2 separate regions of the Homo sapiens genome follow, and region 1 is linked to region 2. Evidence: fine-mapped expression QTL. Tissue or cell type: whole blood. Region 2 holds a variant in brackets; the other region holds the start of a gene. All regions are shown on one strand. Distances are from middle to middle.

Region 1 (5,150 bases), 48 kb after region 2:
AGTTTCCCAAGAAAGCATTGTTGGGAACGAGAGCAGAAAAATGGAGCTGGAGAGGAATGACGCATCAAGGGAGTTTTGGGCTTTTTGCTTTTTAATGAAAGTTACTAGAGTTTGTGTGGTGATGGGAAATATTCAGTAGAGAGAATGATTACTTAGTAAAAAGAAAAGATAGTAACAGGAAAAGATCCCTTAGAGGGTCCCACATAAGGAATCAGTGCTGATCTTATATTGTCATTTTTCTTCGATGTATGCACCAAGTTTAAGTAAGAGATAATTTAAAAGTGACTAGCATGACCTCATATAAAACACTCTACATTGCAGCCCAGGAGGGCTCAGATGGGATGTCCAATCACTGTCAACAAACCTTCTGGAAATCACATCTTTTTTTTTTTTTTTTTCCCTAAGGTGGAGTTTCACTGTTGTTGCCCAGGCTGGAGTGCAATGGTGTGATCTCAGCTCACTGCAACCTCTGCCTCCTGGGTTCAAGCGATTCTCCTGCCTCAGCCTCCCAATTAGCTGGGATTACAGGCATGCACCACTATGCCTGGCTAATTTTTTATTTTTACTACAGGCCGGGTTTCCTCATGCTGGCCAGGCTGGTCTCAAACTCCTGACCTCAGATGATCTGCCCACTTCGGCCTCCCAAAGTGCTGGGATTACAGGCATGAGCCACCGCGCCTGGCCAAGAAATCATATCTTATTAGCTTTGCTGGAGCTGGGAATTAGTTCCAGGCTTTCTCAACCTTGGTGCTATTGGCATTTTGGTTCAGATACTCCCGTGTTGTAGGGGACTGTCCTACGCATCGTAGAATATTTAGTAGAATCCCTGGTCTGTAGCTATCAGATACCAATCAGTAGCATCCAGTGTGACAACCAAAAAGTTCATTGCTAAATGTCCCCAGGGGTAGGGATGGGGGCAACATTGTCCCAATTAAGAATCACTGAGTCATTAAAACCTAAAAAAGTCTAATAAAAAAAAAATCAGCCAATCTTAACAGCTGTGCAAATGTTGATAAATATGACTGTTTTCATTGCCTTATGTTGTTGTGAAAAATTATTCCTAAACCTGGTATGAAAGCATATTGTGCCATTACGTATATGTTCATATTTTTAAACTCCTAATGAAACACCATAGTAACTTTTAAACATTTTAAGTAGAAAGGATTATGAAAGAAAAACAAATATGTGTGTAGGTAAATGAACCTCAGGGATGATAGCAGGAAAAGGAAAGTCACTAGCATTTATTCGGTGCCCACTACATTTTATATTTTGTAAACCTGATTTTTTTTTTCAAAAAAGTGTTTTTTATATGCTCATCGCAAAAAAGAAAAAAACAGATACACTAAAAGAAGAAAATGAAAAAAAGTCATAATCAGTTAACGTTTTGGTGCATATGTTTCATGACTTTCTGTGCATTCATTCACTAGCTTAACCTATCGGAGAGGACAGGAACCCAACATGTCTAGGGAAGTTTTGTTTGTTTTTAACGGGAGAGATTCAAGCATGTTGTAAAGCCAGTTGAAGCTGGGCGCGGTGGCTCACGCCTGTAATCCCAACACCTTGGGAGGCCGAGGGGGGCGATCACCTGAGGTCAGGAGTTCAAGACCAGCCTGGCCAACATGACGAAACCCCGTCATTACTAAAAATACAAAAATAGCTAGGCGCAGTGGTGCGTGTCTGTAATCCCAGCTACTTGGGAGGCTAAGGCAGGAGAATTGCTTGAACTCGGGAGGCGGAGGTTGCGGTGAACGGAGATCGCGCCACTGCACTCCAGCCTGGGAGACAGAGCGAGACTCCGCCTAAAAAAAATGATAATATAATAAAAAAATAAAAAAAAAAGCCAGTTGAAGAACTTAGGTTAGAAAAAGGAGAATGGGATGATCCACAGAGTGGGGTTTCTGAGAAAGTAAAGGTTATAGATTTTAAGCACAGAGGAGGAATTATCTTTAAATTAGAAGAAAAAGCTTGATGAGAGGTTGGAAAGAACACACGCAAGTGAAAATATGTATCTTACTGTATCTACATGTATGTGTATTGTTGTATCTACCTGCAGATATGTATGTCTTATTGTATCTACATGTAGGTATGTATGTATACTTTTAATGTACACATATGCATCTGTGTCTACATATATACATATCTTAGTCTATCTACATGTATGTATCTTACTGTGTCTACACTAAGATGTTTCTTACTGTGTGAGCTACGTTGGAACCTGCTTTTTCATTTATTCTATTGCAACCATTTCCTCCATGCCGGGATTATTCCTCCACATCATTTTTACAGTGTCCTAATACATGCCAGTAGCTGTTTTTGAAGCCATCTAGTAGCGCTGGACATTTTGGCTGTTTGCAATTTTTCACCATCATCAATACCACAGCTTAGTATCTCGAAGGTGAAATATTTGCAGATACCCAGAATTATTTCCTGAGCAGAAAATCCGTGCAGGCGGAACTGCTGAGTCAAAGGTCGGTGGATAAAAATCGCTTTTAAGCCTCACAACCCGCCTCAGGTATGCATTCTTTACCTGAGGAGGAACAGAGAAGCAGAGAGGTTAAATAACTGGCCCAAGGTCAAAAATAATTAGAAGTGGCTGAATTCAAAAGCCGCGCGGGCTCATCAGGCTGCAGTTGGGGTAAAATTTGCGTTTTAGGCAATTTTTTTTTTTTTTTTTTTTGGCGTGTGTCAGTGGGGGAGGGGCCGGGCGGCGGGTAGGAAACTTGTGTCGCAGCAAAGAAGGAGGAGGAGGGGAGGGACTCCCCTCCTCGGTCAGACCGGAGCCGGCCGCACCGAAAAAGGTTGGACTCGGGACTCCGCAGGCCCCCCCAGCCACTCCGCGGGGCGCCTCGGAGGCTGTGACCTCCAGGGAGGTCCGGCTGGGTGCAGCGTGACACGCCGGGGCGGTTGCCAAGGACCTGCCCAATCTGCGGGTCCAGTTGCTAGGGCCTCCATCTTGGGGGCCAGTGGCCGTGGCGCCCCCGGAAGGGGTTGCCGAGTGGGGCATTCACTTCCGGTCTGGGGCCTGCGGCGGCGGCGGTGTCGGCGGCGGCGGCGGCGGCGGCGGCGGCGGCGGCAGCGGGTCGGTGTAGAAAATGGCGCTGGTGCAGCGGCTCGGGCCTCTCCCCGCGGCGCTGCGGAGGGCTTGAGGCTCGCGAGCCTCCTTCGCCGCGCCCCACTTGCTCGTGCACTTTACACACATGAGGTGAGCGGAACAAGGGCCTCCCTCCGGGCGGGAGGAGCCGCGGGCGCTGCCGCAGGGCCCGCAACCCGCGGCGGCGGCAGCAGAGGCGGCGGCGCCGGGCGTCCCCGAGACTTCGGGCCTCGGCGGGAGGGCGCAGGCTGCGTTGCTGCGGAGGCCGAGCGGGCGGCCCGGGGGAGCCTCGCTGCGCCGCGCCGCGGGGGCCAGGCCGGGGTTGCGCCTCGCCCGCGCCGCGGGACCGCAGTCCGGGCTGCAGCCCCGCAGCTTTGTGAGTCCCCCTCCCCCCGTCCTCTCCCCTCCCCCATCCGGCCCCGGCGCGAGCCTCTGCCGCAGCAGCTCCGTTTTCACGCGCATCTCGTTTTTGTGTGTGTGTTTTTGTTTTGTTTTTGTTTTTGTTTTTTTGTTTCAGAGAATTGGAAGCTAAAGCTACCAAAGACGTAGAAAGAAATCTTAGCAGGTAAGATGGGCGAGCTTTCCGTCTCCCGCCCCACGATAATCGTATATTTCTACTCCGATTCGCCTTTTCTGGGTTGAGAAGTTCCCCCGTGACATTTTCTTCCGCACCCGGAGAGCAGACATTCGGGAGAAGCGGCCTGGGGGAATACTGGAGGGATTGCGGGGAGATGCGTAATTACGCGTGTGTTTCTTTCTTTAAAAAAAAAAAAAAAAAGCGCAAAGCAATTCTTGTAAACTTAGTTAAAGCATTCTCACCCTTTTAGAATTTAATTAGGGGACTTGTGCATTAATTACTATTGTAAATGGTTGCAGGCATTGTGTGACTCATGATTGAGGCGGCCCTTATGGCGGGCTGTCAAACTGTTTTGGCTTCCCCGTTATTACTTTGTAGCTCAAATTGTTGCTTTTATAAAAAGATACTATGTGTTCGCATTCCCCCCCGCCCCCCCCCCCCCCCCATACATTGTAGTCAGGCGGATTCTGTTGCATTGGACACAGTTTTGTCCTTGAACTTTACCAAGCATAAGCTGCGTTTTGTTTTCCTTCGAAACTCCATTTCTGTCCATGTTCGGTGTGTGCTCTTTTTATCAGCTGGTAAAATAATTAAAAATCTTTTCTCCAGAAGAGGTTATCGTTCCTGTTGGGCCCTGCTGCTTTTGCATCACCGTGAAGGGAGAATTTTTTTTTTTTTTTAAACGATGTCTTTATGGAATGGAAATATTTAGCTTCATTGAGCTGTAATTGCTTAAGCATCAAGGAATTGTACTGTATTTAACTCCTTTTCACATTCATTTTCTTTCCTACCGTCTTTTCCTTTCTTATTCCCCTTTTTCTTTTGCATCATATTGGGACACTCAGGGAAACTTAGCCAATTAACCAAATCCGTGAATAGCTTTCTTTTTTTCTTTTTTTTCACTTGTTGAAAATAAAATGAAATTTCTCCTATCTCAGGTTTTAATGTAGTTTGCTCTTGATGATTGCGGGTTTTAGGTTTACATTGGGGTTTTTAACACTCACATTTCAAATCGTCTGAATATTTTGCACCGCGTAGAATTGTTCCAAATTGCTGGCCTATTGAGTTTCATAAGATACTAATCTGTTCAGGTGATCGTTAAAGAATGTGTTCAGATGGTGAAGGATAGGCATCATTGGTTTACCCAGTAAGGGATTCTCTGTTACTCAAAATAATTATGGGATCATTTAAAGGAAATTAAGTCTGACATCACTGACTATTTGTGGTATATTTACATAAATTTTGTCAAAATCTAGTAAGGAAATGTTAAGATATGAAACCATTAAAGAAAACAGGTTGAGCCATTAAGGTGTAATATCAGCAGAACAGAGCTTAGAGGTCTGTTTCTCCTTCCATTTTTGTTTTATCAGGTAACTATATCAGTATAATTCCTATGAAGGTGCTCTAGTACTTAATTAAAAATTGTCTGTGCCACAGGTATAATTTTAATATTAGGTAGAACTCGAGTCTGGGTTGGCTATT
Region 2 (5,150 bases):
ATAACTAATACATGACCCAGGCTCCATTTCAAACTGTGAACTCTAAACCCTCTAATGACCCGAATTAACTTGTATATACACACTAGTGGTTCAGAGAGAGACTAAGTCAATCTAAAAGTACTAATATGAAAAGACCTTTAAAACATTGAATTTTTTTTTTTTTTTTTTTTGGATATAGAGTTTCGCTCTTGTTGCCCAGGCTGGAGTGCAATGGCACAATCTCCGCTCACCGCAACCTCCGCCTCCCAGATTGAAGCAATTCTCCTGCCTCAGCCTCCCGAGTAGCTGGGATTACAGGCAAGCGCCACCACGCCTAGCTAATTTTGTATTTTTAATAGAGACGGGGTTTCTCCATGTTAGTCAGGCTGGTCTCAAACTCCCAACCTCAGGTGATCCACCCACCTTGGCCTCCCAAAGTGCTGGGATTACAGGCTGAGCCACTGCGCCCGGCCAAGACATTGAATTTTTTTTTCTCTTGAGACAGGGTCTCTCTCTGTTGCCCAGGCTGGAATGTAGTGGCACAATCTTGGCTCAAGGCAGCCTCGACGTCCAGGGCTCAAGCGATCTTCCCACCTGAGCCTACTAAATAGCTGAGACTACAGGCACATACCACCATACCTGACTAATTTTGTTTTTTTTGTTTTTTTTCAAAGACGGAGTCTTGCTCTGTCGCCCAGGCTGGAGTGCAGTGGTGTGATCTCAGCTCACTGCAACCTCTGCCTCCTGAGTTCTAGCAATTCTCCAGCCTCAGCCTCCCAAGTAGCTGGGACTACAGGCACACGCTGCCACATCTGGCTAATTTTTTGTATTTTAATAGAGACAAGGTTTTACCACGTTGCCCAGGCTGGTCTCGAACTCCTGAGCTCAGGCAATCCACCCGCCTCGGCCTCCCAAAGTGCTAGGATTACAGGCGTGAGCCACCCCACCTGGCAATTTTATTTTTTTTTAGAGACAAGGTCTCACTATGTTGCCCAGGCTGGTCTTAAACTCCTGTACTCAAGCAATCCTCCCGCTTCAGCCTCCCAAAGTGCTGAGATTACAGGTGTGAGCCACTGTACCTGGCCCACTGGATCTTTAAACAAGATTCAGAACAATATTCACTCCAGGATATCATCCATGTAAAATAAAATACAACTTAACACATTACATGTCTTCTGTAGCTACACATAAATGTATATAAATGCATTTAAATAAATCTGGAGGTAAACATATCACCTGATAGCTAGTGATTTCCTGGGGGTGCTTAAGAAGGAATTAGCTTTTGTCCACAGTTTTTAAAAATTTTATATGAAGAATATATTTGGCCAGGTACAGTGGTTCTTTCCTGTTACCCTAGCACTTTGGGAGGCTGAAGGCGGGAGGATGACTTATCCAAGACCAGCCTGGGCAACATAGCAAGACCCTGTCTTTATGCAGAAAAAAAAAAAGTATCTGGGCATGGTAGCATGTGCCTGTAGTCCTAGCTACTCTGGAGGCTGAGGAGGGAGGATTGCTTGACTCTGAGAGGTCCAGGCTATGGTGAGCCATGATCACACCACTGTACTCTAGCCTGGGTGACAGAGTCAGACACTGTCTCTTAAAAAAAAAAAAGGAGGCCCGGTGCGGTGGCTCACACCTGTAATCCCAACAGTTTGGGAGGTCGAGGCAGGCAGATCATGAGGTCAGAGTTCAAGACCAGCCTCACCAACATAGTGAAACCTCATCTCTACTAAAAATACAAAAATTAGCTGGGTGTGGTGGCACGCACCTGTAGTCCCAGATACTTGGGAGGCTGAGGCGGAAGAATCACTTGAACCTGGAGGCAGAGGTTGTGGTGAGCCAGTATCCTGCCACTGCACTCCAGCCTGGGCAACAGAGCAAGACTCCATCAAAAAAAAAAAAAAAAGGAACTATTATTTATTAGGAAGCGTTTTTTTGTTTGTTTGTTTGTTTTTTGACAGGGTCTTGCTCTGTCACCCATGCTGGACTGCAATGGCACGATTTCAGCTCACTGCAACCAACCTCTGCCTTCCATGCTCAAGCAATCCTCCTCAGCCTCCCGAGTAGCTGAGACTACAGGCGTGCACAACCACACTCGGCTAATTAAAAAAAAAAAATTTTTTTTTTGAGAGACTAGGTCTCACTGTATTGCCCAGGCTGATCTCAAACTTCTGGGCTCAAACAATCTTCCTGCCTCAGCCTCCCAAAGTGCTTAGACAGTAAAGCTTTTTATAATAAAACCAAAATAACTCAGAACCATATCAAACAGAAAGTAAAAGTCCATGTTAGCCCCATCTCTCCAATTAATAATTATTAACAATTTGTTTTATATTCTTCCATACCTTTTTTCTAAATCTAATAGATAAAAAGGATCCTATTTTATTTACCATTTTTTAACTTGGTGTTTTTTGTTTGTTTGTTTGAGACCGAGTCTTGCTTTGTTGCCCAGGCTGGAGAGCAGTGGCGTGATCTCGGCTCACTGCAGCCTACACCTCCTGGATTCAAGTGATTCTCCTGCCTCAGCCTCCCGGGTAGCTGGGATTACAGGCATGCGCCACCATGCCCAGCTAATTTTTGTATTTTTAGTAGAGACAGGGTTTTCCCATGTTGGCCAGGCTAGTCTCAAACTCCTGACCTCAAGTGATCCGCCTGCCTCAGCCTCCCAGAATGCTAGGATTGCAGGCGTGAGCCATCGCACCTGACCTAACCTGTTTTTTTTCTATTAGTAATATATTGTGGACATATTTTCATAATCATTCATAGTGAGCTACTAATTTTTTCTGCCTAGTTGCATGTCATTCCATTGTATACATGTGTTGTAATTAGTCCAACTGTTAAAATATAAGCTCCATGAAAACAGGGCTTTTTCAGATTTATTTGCTGCTCTATCCTTAGGGGCTAGA[A/G]CAGTGCTTGATGCTTAATAGGCACCCAACAAATGGGAATTAATTAATTAGTCAACTACTGATAGACAACTGGTTTGATTGTACCCCAGTACATTACTATTTTCACACTACCATAATTATTTCCTTGAGATAAATTCCTAAAGATGAAACTGCTGAGTCAAAAGGGATGCATATTTTAAAATGTTGCAACGTGTTGCCAAACTCCTCTGTATTTAGCTTGTACTATATTATATTCCCGCCCATCTGTCGATGAAAGCACCTCTGTTCCCCACGGCCTCGCCAGTATAAGTATCATTCATCTCTGATGTAAGTTGTGATAGGATAGTCAACTGTCTGTAAATGTTGTACGGGGGAATTGGAGAGTGGCTATTTTGTGAAACTGGGCAGAATGCACACAGTCTACCAGATCTACTTGAGTAATTAATGTAAACAAAGAATGCATCAGTCAAGGGAAGGAAAGAGAAGACATGTTCAAATTAGGTCATGAAAGGAGGACTTGTTTGATTTTTTTTTTTTTAAAGGCAGGGTCTTGCTCTGTTGCTCAGGCTGGAGTGCAGTGGTGTGATCTCAGCTCACCGCAGCCTCAACCTCTCAAGGTCAAGCGATACTCTCACCTCGCCTCCCAAGTAGCTGGGACTACAGGCGTGCACCACCACGCCCAGCTTTTTTTTTTTTTTTTTCAGTAGAGATGGGGTTTTGCCATATGGTCCAGGCTGGTCTCAAACTCCTGGACTCAAGCGGTCTGCCTGCCTCGGCCTCCCTAAGTGCTGGGATGACAGGCATGAGCTACCACACGCAGCTGAAGGAAGATTGAATAGAGGAACTCTACAAACGGAGGGCAGAAAACCGCAAGGATCCACAGGACTAATTAGGCTGGCTTCTGTTACCACCCCTATGCCTGAAAGGCCAAGGGGAAGAATGACCACTGTACCCTAGAGACTGAGAAGCCTATAGAGAGAGGGCCACCGAGGTGGGAAATGTGACTTTAAGGCAGCCAGCACGCAGAATGACCGCAGAGAAGCAGCCAGAGAATAAATGCCCCAAGCCCCGTCTCCTCCCTTCCTCAATCATCTTCTGGGGCTCCCTATTGGTCAAAACCAATGGGAAGCCAGAAGACAAGGGAGCCCATCGAACAGTGTATACACTTAGCCTCCCAAGACACAAGGCGTACACCAAGTGTTCGATAAATGCATCATTGAATTTAACCCTCACAATAATCCTTCAAGATAGTTGTTTACATTCTAATGGAAAACTGAGGCTCAGAGAGATTCATTAACTTGTCCAAGGTCACCAGCTAGTTTTGGAGGCTCCAATGCCCTGGGCTCATATGTGCTATGAAGCTTGGAACTGAGAGCAAGGAGACCCCATGACGAGCACAAACTCTTATCAGATACTGGAAGCCCCCAAAACAGCTCTAGTGGCAGGAAAAGGCTCTCCTGCAGTTTTTTGGGTTTTGGTGTTTTTTTGTTGTTGTTACTATTGTTGTTTTTGAGACAAGTTCTCACTCTATCACTCACTGGAGTGCAGTGGCACAATCATAGTTTACTTCAGCCTCAACCTCCTGGGCTCAAGCAATCCTCCCACCTCAGCCTCCCAAGTAGGTGGGACTACAGGCATACACCACCATGCCCAGCAATTTTTTAAATTATTTTGTAGAGACGGAGTCTTGCTATGTTGCCCAGGCTGGTTTTAAACACCTGTGCTCAAGCGATCCTCCCACTTGGCCTCCCAAAGTGCTTGGATTACAGGCATGAGCCACCGTGCCCAGCCCCTATCCTGCAGTTTTTATGACATGTGAGATGGTAGCTCAGGCAAGGCTCAGCAGACAAGCCACAGCTGTGTTCATCACCAACATCAGCCACCCTCTTCCCCATGGGAGGTGGTAGAGTGCCGTGCTAACAGCCCAGATTCTGGAGGTAAACTGCCCGAGTTCAAGTCCTGTTTCTGCCACCGACTAGCTGTGCAACCTTGGGCAATTTCCTTAGCTCTTCTCGCTGTCCTCAGTTTCCTCATCTGTAAAGTAAGGACAACCACAGGCCTCAGGACTTAATGAGGTAAAATAAGGAGAGTGCCCTGCACCTAGTGAGCCCTAGCAGGTATAAAGGTATTATAGGCATCGACACTAACTCACAGTGAACTGTTGCTTCCCAGTCTCTCTTCCCCTTCAAAGGTACTGATGTGTGAGCTCTCCCTAATTAGACTCTGCACCCTAAAGCCAGGAGTGTCTTGTCCAAGCCTCAGTGAGCTTCTTAACAGAGTAGTAGTAAA

Evidence for each region. PIP is the estimated chance that this variant, and not a neighbour inherited with it, causes the effect.
Region 1: TNRC6A starts here. The variant in region 2 is fine-mapped to the expression of TNRC6A in whole blood (INTERVAL, PIP 0.90).

The regions. Positions count from the first base shown.
Region 1 is chr16:24,726,645-24,731,794 of GRCh38, forward strand. TNRC6A (trinucleotide repeat containing adaptor 6A) reads left to right here and starts at 3,007. Exons shown (of 25, transcript NM_014494.4): 1 at 3,007-3,202; 2 at 3,609-3,656. The coding sequence starts at 3,198. RefSeq lists a silencer at 3,036-3,345.
Region 2 is chr16:24,678,845-24,683,994 of GRCh38, forward strand. It overlaps a transcript of TNRC6A not described here. Among named protein-coding and RNA genes, the nearest start is that of LINC01567, 10 kb to the left of the region's middle. RefSeq lists an enhancer at 4,910-5,150. The variant A/G (reference allele first, on the strand shown) is at 2,883.